Linked DNA regions of Homo sapiens. The protein of the gene in region 2 binds, or shares a complex with, the protein of the main gene of each other region. Each region holds a gene or a part of one and is shown on either strand. Other genes may lie near its edges.

The links.
Region 1: SNRNP40 (region 2) and SNW1 share a complex: the UniProt entries of both Homo sapiens proteins name them as parts of the minor spliceosome.
Region 3: SNRNP40 (region 2) and SNRPD1 share a complex: the UniProt entries of both Homo sapiens proteins name them as parts of the U4/U6-U5 tri-snRNP complex.

What each region holds. Positions count from the first base shown.
Region 1 is NC_000014.9:77,733,507-77,737,159, reverse strand, and holds part of SNW1 (SNW domain-containing protein 1), read left to right. Parts: intron 1-84; coding exon 85-189; intron 190-1,153; coding exon 1,154-1,223; intron 1,224-2,147; coding exon 2,148-2,213; intron 2,214-3,653. UniProt on the Homo sapiens protein: Involved in pre-mRNA splicing as component of the spliceosome. As a component of the minor spliceosome, involved in the splicing of U12-type introns in pre-mRNAs.
Region 2 is NC_000001.11:31,290,222-31,293,874, reverse strand, and holds part of SNRNP40 (U5 small nuclear ribonucleoprotein 40 kDa protein), read left to right. Parts: intron 1-526; coding exon 527-656; intron 657-1,868; coding exon 1,869-1,962; intron 1,963-3,653. UniProt on the Homo sapiens protein: Required for pre-mRNA splicing as component of the activated spliceosome. Component of the U5 small nuclear ribonucleoprotein (snRNP) complex and the U4/U6-U5 tri-snRNP complex, building blocks of the spliceosome.
Region 3 is NC_000018.10:21,618,738-21,622,390, forward strand, and holds part of SNRPD1 (small nuclear ribonucleoprotein Sm D1), read left to right. Parts: intron 1-3,653. UniProt on the Homo sapiens protein: Plays a role in pre-mRNA splicing as a core component of the spliceosomal U1, U2, U4 and U5 small nuclear ribonucleoproteins (snRNPs), the building blocks of the spliceosome.

The DNA.
Region 1 (3,653 bases), on a different chromosome or scaffold from region 2:
TCTAGCTTAAGATTGTAATAGAAGGAAAATACCTACTGAAAGCTTGAACTAATTACACCTTTAGTTTTTATCTGCTTTCTTCAGATACACACCATCTCAGCAAGGAGTGGCATTCAACTCTGGAGCTAAACAGAGGGTTATTCGGATGGTAGAAATGCAGAAAGATCCAATGGAGCCTCCAAGGTTCAAGTAAGTGAAAAGGAATAGGCTACTAATACACACAATAACATGGATGAATCTCAAAACAATATGCTGAGTGAAAGAAGCCAGGCAAAAACAAGTACATACAGTATGATTCCATTTATCTAAAACTCCAGGAAATGCAAACTAACCTATAGTTACAGAAAGTAGATAGGTGGTTGCCTCTGGGGAAGGAGGTAGGGACAGAGAGGAGATGGGAGGGACAAGAGGAATAGGCAAGGGGCAAGCAGAAACTTTTGGGGATGATAGACATGTTCACTATCTTGCTTGTGATGATGATTTCACAGGTGCATATTTGTGTCAAAATTTAATCAAATCGTATGCTTTAAATATGTATAGCTAATAAATGTCAATTATCTCAATAAAGCTGCCTTTTTTTGTTTTTGTTTTTGTTTTTGTTTTTGTTTTTTGAGAGACAGTCTCGCTCTGTCACCCAGGCTGGAGTGCAGTGGCATGATCTCAGCTCACTGCAACCTCTGCCTCCTGGGTTCAAGCGATTCTCTTGTCTCAGCCTCCTGAGTAGCTGGGTTTACAGGCGTGTACCACAATGCCCAGCTAAGTTTTTGTATTTTTAGTAGAGACAGGGTTTCACCATGTTAGCCAGGATGGTCTCGATCTCCTGACGTCAGGCGATCTGCCCACCTTGGCCTCCCAAAGTGCTGGGATTACAGGCATGAGCCACTGCACCCGACCTAAAGCTGCTTTTTAAAGTGGAAAAAAGTATATTACTCTGCAAAATGACAATAATGTTGTGGAGGTGGGGTGAGTAACAGTTTCAAAGTTGGCCATGTTTTATTCATTGTCAAAGTGGAGTGGTAAATGTATATCATTATACAGTCTCTGTTTTTGTCTATGTTTGAAACTTTTATGCAAGAAAAAGGAGGAGAGACTTGATATGATGACTAAAAGGGAGGAAACTATATCACTCTCTGGTTGTGTTTTTATACTTCAGGATTAATAAGAAAATTCCCCGGGGACCACCTTCTCCTCCTGCGCCTGTCATGCATTCTCCTAGCCGAAAGGTATTCTTTGCTGTAGTCCAAAATATTTTTTTCTACTCATGGTTATTAATTTTATAGATAACCTCCCTATGCCTATACAGGTGCATGTCACCACACTGACTTGTAGTTTCTTTTTTTATTTTTCAAGATGAAGTTTCAAGAATGCTTATGAGAATGTATATAACATGTTAGCTGTAAGTTTTGTTATTAGTAATGCAAACCCTACTTTTAATGGAATGGACAGGGTCTGCTGTTTCAGTTTAAGGATGTTATAGGAAGTGAATATATGGGTTCATTAGGTCCCTGGTAATTTGACTTTTTAAGATATGTTTTGTTAATCAAAAGAACAATTTTTCATCCAAAAGAAGTCACATCGGCCGGGCGTGGTGGCTCACGCCTGTAATCCCAGCACTTTGGGAGGCCGAGGCGGGCAGATCACCTGAAGTCGGGAGTTCAAGACCGGCCTGACCAACATGGAGAAACCCCGTCTTTACTTTAAAAAAAATTAGCTGGGCATGGTGGCGCATGCCTATAATCCCAGCTACTTGGGAGGCTGAGGCAGGAGAATCACTTGAACCCAGGAGGCGGAGGTTGTGGTGAGCCAAGATTGCACCATTGCACTCCATCCTGGGCAACAAAAGCGAAACCCCGTCTCAATAAAAAAAAGAAAAAAGTCACATCACTTTAAATATGGAAAAATACTAGCCAACATTTATAACTGTCAAGAATAATTTCTAGATTATTTTCCATTTTTCACACTAGTTCAAAGTTATTACTAGAATTATATGGTAAACTAGTGCTAGCAAACAAATGGACTGCTGGCCTTTTACTACGGCTGTGCATATGTCAGTGTATATGGAGCTGTCTTTGAAGATAAAGATTATACTTAGATTTACTTTGTAGACTATAAATCTAAACTTGTCTCTTCTTTCCCTCTTCTCTCAGATGACTGTAAAGGAACAACAAGAGTGGAAGATTCCTCCTTGTATTTCTAACTGGAAAAATGCAAAGGTAATTAAGTTGTCAAATCAGTCTCTATTAGTATAACCTACTGGAAAACACCAGTAAAACAACTACAGCCTGCATAACTGTAGTTGAAACAACACGTGGTTTAACTGAGCATTTTCAAAAAGGAATGCCCAATTTGGTGACTTTTTTAATGTAATAGAAATGTTAGTATGCCAGGCACGTGAATACCGTGTCAGTTCCTTTTTTTTTTTTGAGACGGAGTCTCGCTCTGTCACTAGGCTGGAGTACGGTGGCATGATCTCAGCTCACTGCAGCCTCCACCTCCCAGGTTGAAGCGATTGCCCTGCCTCAGCCTCCTGAGTAGCTGGGACTACAGGCGCATGCCACCACGTCCGGCTAATTTTTCGTATTTTAGTAGAAACGGGGTTTCACCCTGTTGGCCAGGTTGGTCTTGATCTCCCGACCTTGTGATCCGCCGGCCTCGGCCACCCAAAGGGCTTAGATTGCAGGTGTGAGCCACCGCACCCGGCCCCATATCAGTTCTTTTAGTGAATTGTAGCTAGCAGAAGCACATAGAGAAGGAATAAGTAGAATAAAGTGTCATATAAATACAAGATGGTATTTAGAAAACTCAAATTTATATCTAAAAATTATTTCTAAAAGAAAGTAAACTGATGTAAAAGATTATATGACAAAAGAACAGAGTAAATGCTTGGATACTTTAAGTGCTTTAATATTCAACTACTGGGCTCTGTAGTAGTGAAGGCTTAAGCTATATATCTCTAATAATTGCCAAAGTTTCTAGGAGTTGTTAAGAATCTGTAGATTGTGGGATAGATTTGCTAGTTACTGTTTCATCTTCCCTGAATCATAGTTCATGATTTTATTTTTGATGGATAAAGAAGACCATTTCAGGTTTCTTAAGAGAATTTATATACTCACCCTAAACAAAGAGGTTGCCGACTGGTCTGATTTGAGTTGATTGGTATTTTGTAACTGGATGGTATCTTGAGCTGGTTCTATAATGCTTCATTTTATTATGAGACCATGGACTAAAAGTCAACATTTGAGAGACTAGTCAGATATCTGGAAAATAAAGCTAAGCCTGAAAGTTACATAGACATTCAAGTACAGTTCTTGAGTTATTGAAATGGGATGCAAAGTTTTAGAATGTAGAAATTCAGTTGTTTAGCAAACATTTTTTTTTCTTTTTTCTTTGGTTTTTTTTTTTTTTTTTTTTTTTTTTGAGACGGTCTCGCTCTGTTGCCCAGGCTGGAGTACAGTGGTATGATCATGGCTCACTGCAGCCTCAACCTCCCAGGCTCAGGCGATCCTCCCACCTCAGCCTCCCGAGTAGTTGGGACCACAAGTGTGCCCCACCATGCCTGGCTACTTTTTTGTATTTTTGGTAGAGACGGGGTTTCACCATGTTGCCAGGCTGGTCTTGAACTCCTGGGCTCAAGCAATCCACCTGCCTTGGCC
Region 2 (3,653 bases):
GCCAGGCCAAATGTGGTGGCTCATTCCTATAATCTTAGTGCTTTGGGAGGCCAAGGAGGGAGGCCAGGATTTTGAGACCAGCCTAGGCAACGTAGCAAGACCTCATCTCCACAAAAACTAAAAAAATTAGCATGGCATGCTAGTTCATGCCTGTAGTCCTGGCTACTCAGGAGGCTGAGGCAGGAGGATCACTTGAGCCAAGGAGTTTGAAGCTGCAGTGAACCATGATCACACTACTGCAGTCCAGCCTAGGTGACAGAGTGAGACCCTATCTCCAAAAAAAAGTTGGTCGTACAACAAGAGCTGAGAGAGTGAACAAGAGAGTCATTATAACAGGTAGATAATGGAAAGTTTCAGAGAGTGTCAAGTTGGAGGCATTCATATGAGAAGAGCTACCATTCTGTAAGTCAGATGAAACCCACTTAATCATTGTTTTCTTGGTCTTTTCCCTCCACTCCCCACCCCCTAATTTTGTAGCCTCCTTTGTCTGTATGCAGTAGTTACCTTGTGCTTCTCTTTTGTTTAGGGACCTCCAAGATGTTCCTCCCTTCAAGCCCCAATCATGCTGCTCTCTGGACATGAAGGGGAAGTCTACTGCTGCAAGTTCCACCCCAACGGATCCACCTTAGCATCTGCAGGATTTGACCGACTGATATGTGAGGCATAGTTTTTGAATCTGGAATAATTTTTCCTGCCAGATAGTGATTTTTTTTTTTAAATCTTGGGTGCCACAGAAGGTATCACTCTATGTTGGCAACATAACAGGCTGCATGGCTAATATGCTAAAATTGGGGCATGAACATGCTGAATGATCTTGGGTGTAGAACTTGGAGTCCATGGGGTAAATACAGAAGCCATTATTTTACTAGTTGGAAAGTGAGTTGTTCTGGTTTGAGAATGTCTTCCTCATAGAGGCAAATCTCCAGCTAATTTACCAAGGCACTTAGCAATCTAGACATAACAGGTTAATGGCAGTAATGAGGAGAGAAATAACTTTTATTTTCCCAAAGGTATAAGGTCCTCTTAATTCACACCCAGAATCCTAGCTAGCATATGGGAAGGAAGGAATCCTAAAGTGGTAACTCCCTTAAATAATCTACCTGTACATCATTAGGATCTACTACCAGATTTCCATTTTTGAGAAATAAGAATTTCTCATACCCATTTTTGAGAAGTAAGTAGAAAAAGTCGTTTTATTTATACTCCAGCAAATGAAGCCAGAAGGAAAAAAAATCAGATGCTTCTGTTGCTACTTTCTTGCCAGATTATGAGATGAAATGAGTTATTTGGCTCTTTTCTGTTAACTCTTTTCCTCGGTGCCGGGTGGATGATACCCGTCTTCACTGCCCATTTTGATTTGGATGTTCCGGCTCTATGATCCTTAAGCTTACTAGTGGCCAAACGTCTGGATTGCTTAGGGATCTTTGCAGAACATATATGAATTATTGATAGGCTTAATTTCATCAGACAAACTACATAGTTTTTTTTGTTTGGTTGGTCGGTTGGCTTTTTAGAGACGGAGTCTCACTCTGTCACCCAGGTTGGAGTGCCGTGGCGCGATCTCGGCTCACTGCATCCTCCGTCTCCTGGGTTCAAGTGATTCTCCTGCCTCAGTCTCCCAAGAGCTGGGATTGTAGGCGTCTGCCACTACACCTGGCTGATTTTTTTATTTTTATTAAAGATGGGGTTTCGCCGTATCAGCCACGCTGGTCTCGAACTCCTGACCTCAAGTGATCCACCCGTCTCGGCCTCCCAAAGTGCTGGGATTACAGGTGTGAGCCACCGTGCCTGACCTGAGAACTGTTGTTCTGATAAATTTATAAGTACCCTTTGCCTAGTAATGCTCACAGAACCCATCTCCCTAACAGTACTGTGGAATGTCTATGGTGACTGTGATAACTATGCCACACTGAAGGGACACAGTGGAGCAGTGATGGAATTGCATTACAACACAGATGGCAGGTGAGTATTCTGCATAATGGAAGGACAGCTTCTCATACTAATTCTTGGCGTCCTTTCACCTTTCATCCTTTCTCAGGAGACCCTGCTATCAAAAACTACTAATTTTGGGTAGCTACTTTAGTATCCGATTTATCACTGTCACCCCAAGTGAGGTGTTTATAGTCTGTGTATGCAAATATAAAGATGTTACATCGGTCATTTCAACAACCCAGACAAATTTTTCTTTTTTTAAGACATAAAATAAATGTGATTTTTATATGTAGGCTGGAGTGCAGTGACACAAACATGGCTCACTGCAGCCTCAACCTCTTGCTCGAGGGATCCTCCCACTTCAGCCTCCCAAATAGCTGGGGCCACAAGCCCACGCCTCCATGCCCAGCTAATTTTTAAAAATCATTTGTGGAGACATGGTCTTGCTATATTGCTCCTGAGCTCAAGCAGTCCACCTGCCTCAGCCTCCCAAAAATGCTGTGATTACAATAATTAACCACCATGCCTGGCCTGAAATCAGCTATTTCTATTATAAAAATCATTTCTTTTGAGAAACCAAAAAAAGCAGAAAGATGAAAAAATAGTCTATATTTCTACCACTCCAAAGATAATCAGTGTTAATTTTTTTTTTTTGAGACGGAATTTCACTCTTGTTGCCCAGGCTGGAGTGCAATGGCACGATCTCGGCTCACTGCAACCTCCGCCTCCCAGGTTCACGTGTTTCTCTTGCCTCAGCCTCCAGAATAGCTGGGATTACAGGGATGCATCACCGTGCCTGGCTAATTTTGTATTTTTTGTAGAGACTGGGTTTCTCCATGTTGGTCAGGCTGGTCTTGAACTCCCAACCGCAGGTGATCCGCCCACCTCAGCCTCCCAAAGTGCTGGGATTACAGGCATGAGCCACCGTGCCTGGCCAATCACTGTTAATTTTATACATTTTTCTAATGCCTTTTTTTCTACTCAGAACTGTTTAGTTGTTGCATATTTGTTAGAACTATGTGTACAATCTTTTTTATTTATTTATTTATTTTATTTTATTTTTTTGAGACGGAGTCTTGCTCTGTCGCCCAGTCTGGAGTGCAGTGGTGCGATCTCGGCTCACTGCAAGCTCCGTCTCCGGGGTTCACACCATTCTCCTGCCTCAGCCTCCTGAGTAGCTGGGATTACAGGTGCCCGCCACCATGCCCGGCTAATTTTTTTGTATTTTTAATAGAGATGGGGTTTCACCGTGTTAGCCAGGATGGTCTCGATCTCCTGACCTTGTGATCCGCCCGCCTTGGCCTCCCAAAATGCTGGGATTACAAGTGTGAGCCACCGCACCTGGCCAGAACTGTGTGTACAATCTTATTTGCTCCTTTTTTCTCTTAACATTGCTCAGCCAACATCTGATGTCATAAACGTCATTTTAATGACTATATTATTTTAGAATATATTATAGATAATATAGAAATCTGGCTATACAAAAGTAATTACATTGTTAGGTAGTCTGGTAAACATTCATTGTTTTACATTTCTGACCTCTAAAATCTTAGGGTGCTCCATCAATTGATACATAGCATTGTATACATTTTAAATAAAGCATTAGAAAGCTGGGCCTGGTGGCATGTGCTTATAATCCCAGCTATTTGGGAGGCTGAGGCAGGAGGATTCCTGGAGCCCAAGAGTTCAAAACCAGCCTGGGCAACACAGTGAGACTCCAT
Region 3 (3,653 bases), on a different chromosome or scaffold from region 2:
GTTTGAGGCTTGTTATATCCCAGACCAAGTAATTTCTTTTTTGTGATGGCTGTCTATACCACTAAAAAAAAAGAAATTAAAAAAAGGCATTTTAAGGTTGGTTTCCCTTTATTCATTAAAACATTTCAGCCAACATTATTCAGTGCCTATTACAGTCTAGGATTAGATATAGAGCTTACGATCCCTACCCTCAAGAATAGTCTAGTGCGGGAGGATAATAGGTTATCTTATGTGTACCATTTAGTGTGATGATAGGATCTGTTAATTCAAAGTATATATTATAGACTAAAAGTTTTTATATGAACTGTGTATTGTATGATAGTGTGGGGTTCATTTTCTTAGATGTGATTGTGAGATTATGGTTATATAGGAGAATGTCATTAGAAAATGCATGCTGAAGTGTCGTAATGCCTACAACTTACTTTGAGATGGTGTGATCAATTTTTTTTCGTTTGTTTTTTTGACAAAGTCTCACTCTATTGTCCAGGCTGGAGTTTAGTGGTGCAGTCTTGGCTCACTGCAACCTCTGCCTCCCAGGCTCAAGCAATTCTCCTGCCTCAGCCTCCCCAGTAGCTGGGATTACAGTCAAGTGCCACCAAGTCTGGCTAATTTTTTTGTATTTTTAGCAGAGACGGGGTTTCGCCATGTTGGCCAGGCTGGTCTCGAACTTCTGACCTCAGGTGATCCGCCTGCCTCGCCCTCCCAAAGTGCTGGGATTACAGGGATGAGCCACCACACCTGGCGAAGACTGTCTTTAAAAAAAAGGGCCAGGCCTGGTGGCTTACGCCTGTAATCCCAGCACTTTGGGAGGCCAAGGTGGGCAGATCACCTGAGGTCAGAAGTTCGAGACCAGCCCAACGGGTGAAACCCTGTCTCTACTAAAAATACAAAAATCAGCCAGGTGTGGTGGCAGGCGCCTGTAGTCCCAGCTACTTGGGAGGCTGAGGCAGGAGAATTGCTTGAACCCAAGAGGTGGAGGTTGCATTGAGCCAAGATCATGCCACTGCACTCCAGCCTGGGTGACAGAGCGAGACTCCGTCTCAAAAAAAAATAGAATTTTAAAAAAAGACGGAGTCTTGCTCTGCCACACAGGCTCCAGGGCAGTGACACAGTCATGGCTCATTGCAGCCTCAAAGTCCTGGGCTCTAGCGATCCTCCCACCTCAGACTCCGAGGAGCTGAGACTACAGGCATGAGCCAACAGGCCCAGCTAATTTTTTTATTTGTATTTTTTTCGAGATGGAGTCTTGCTCTGTCACCCAGGCTGCAGTGCAATGGCATGATCTTGGCTCACTGCAACCTCTGCCTCCCAGGTTCAAGCGATTCTGCTGCCTCAGCCTCCTGAGTAGCTGGGATTACAGACCTGCACCACCACACCTGGCTAATTTTTTGTATTTTTAGTAGAGATGGGATTTCACCATATTGGCCAAGCTGGTCTCCAACTCCTGACATTGTGACCCGCCCACCTTGGCCTCCCAAAGTGCTGGGGTTACAGGCATGAGCTACCGCACCCGGCCAACTAATTTTTTTTTTATTTTTATTTTTGTAGAGACAGGATCTTGCTTTGTTGACCAGGCAGGTCTCGAACTCCTGGCCTCAAGTGATCATCCCACCTTGGCCTCTCAAAGTGGTGAAATTACAGGCATGAGCCACTGCACTGGCAATTGACAATATTTGTAAACCCTTTAACTTTTCATCCTCTGCAAAATTTTATAAAAAGGGGAGAACGGAAATTTAGATGAAGTGAGAAGTGGATAGATTGTTCATTATATATTATCAAGGCAACTGGCTATTCAGTTGGGGAAAGTAATAAAGACAGATTTGTGCCTTACACTGCATAAAAAAGATCAATTCCAAGTAGATTAGAACTCTAAAAGTAGAAGAAAATAAGACACTATTTTTTTACAATCTTGGCATAGAAAAAACCCTTTCTTAGGTAAATTATGTATCCCAGGAGGGTGAACAAATTCAAAACATAAAAGTGAAAAAAGTTTGTGTGACTAAAGAAACCATAAACAACAAACTTGAATGACTGGCAAACCAGTAGAAAATAAAAGAAAAACTCAACCTAATTGAGAATGTCAATAATGTGAACAGGTAATTCACGGAAGAAATAGTTTTCCCATGTTAATGAAAAGATATTCAGGCAGGGCGCGGTGGCTCATGCCTGTAATCCCAGCACTTTGGGAGGCCGAGGCGGGTGGATCACGAGGTCAGAAGATCAAGGCCATCGTGGTTAACATGGTGAAACCCCGTCTCTACTAAAAAAAAAATACAAAAAATTAGCCAGGTGTGGTGGCGAGCGCCTGTAATCCCAGCTACTCGGGAGGCTGAGGCAGGAGAATGGCGTGAACCTAGGAGGCGGAGGTTGCAGTGAGCCGAGATTGTGCCACTACACTCCAGCCTGGGTGACAGAGCGAGACTCTGTGTCAAAAAAAAAAGATAAGATATTCAATCTCACAGGTAATTAAGGAAAAGCAAATTTTTTCCCCATCAAATTGACAAAAATTTGAAAGACTTATAGCAACTTGTGTTGGTGAGGGTTTGCATAATTGGGTTTGTAATGGGAAAAAATTGAACCAAAGTAATGTCCGTCAACAGGCGGTAATAAATTTTGACATTTCCATATAGTGGAATACTTTCCAGTTCTTAGAATGTTATTTTGTTATTTTGGCTTTTTGTGAGATGGAGTCTTGCCCTGTCACTCAGGCTGGGGTACAGTGGAACAATCTCACCTCACTGCAAATGCTGCCTCCCGGGTTCAAGCGATTCTCATGCCCCAGCCTTCCAAGTAGCTGGGATTACAGGCGTGCGCCACCTTGCCTCGCTAATTTATTTTTATTTTTTTTTAATTTTTTTTGAGATGGAGTCTTGCTCTGTCCCCAGGTTGGAGTGCAGTGGTGCGATCTTGGCTGACTGCAATCTCTGCCTCCCAGGTTTAAGCGATTCTCCTGCCTCAGCCTTCTGAGTAGCTAGGATTACAGGCGTACGCCATCCTGCCCAGCTAATTTTTGTGTTTTTGTAGAGATGGAGTTTCACCATGTTGGCCAGGCTGGTCTTGAATTCCTGACCTCAGATGATCCGCCCTCCTCGGCCTCCCAAAGTGCTGGGATTATAAATAGGCATGAGCCATCACGCCCAGCCTCAGTTCTTAGAATGTTTTGTATGTTGAAATGGAAATATGTCCAATATAAACTGCTAAACGAGGACTACAAGTTATAGACGTGAATAAAATATGACCCAATTTATGTCAAAAGAAATCTGTATATATCCTTCTGAATGCATATAAAGTGATCTGGAATAATATTCCTACATACCCACAGTGCAGGGGGTTAGGAAGGGAGATTTTTACTTTATAGGCATTATAATAAGCTTGTAATCTTTTTACCGACTGTAATTCTTTATTTCTTTTTTTTTTTTTGAGACGGAGTCTCGCTCTGTTGCCCAGGCTGGAGTGCAGTGGCGTGATCTCGGCTCACTGAGAGCTCTGCTTCCCAGGTTCACCCCATTCTCCTGCCTCAGCCTCCCGAGTAGCTGGGACTACAGGTGCCCGCCACCATGCCCAGCTAATTTTTTGTATTTTTTAGTAGAGACGGGGTTTCACCATGTTAGCCAGGATGATCTCGATCTCCTGACCTCGTGATCCGCCCGCCT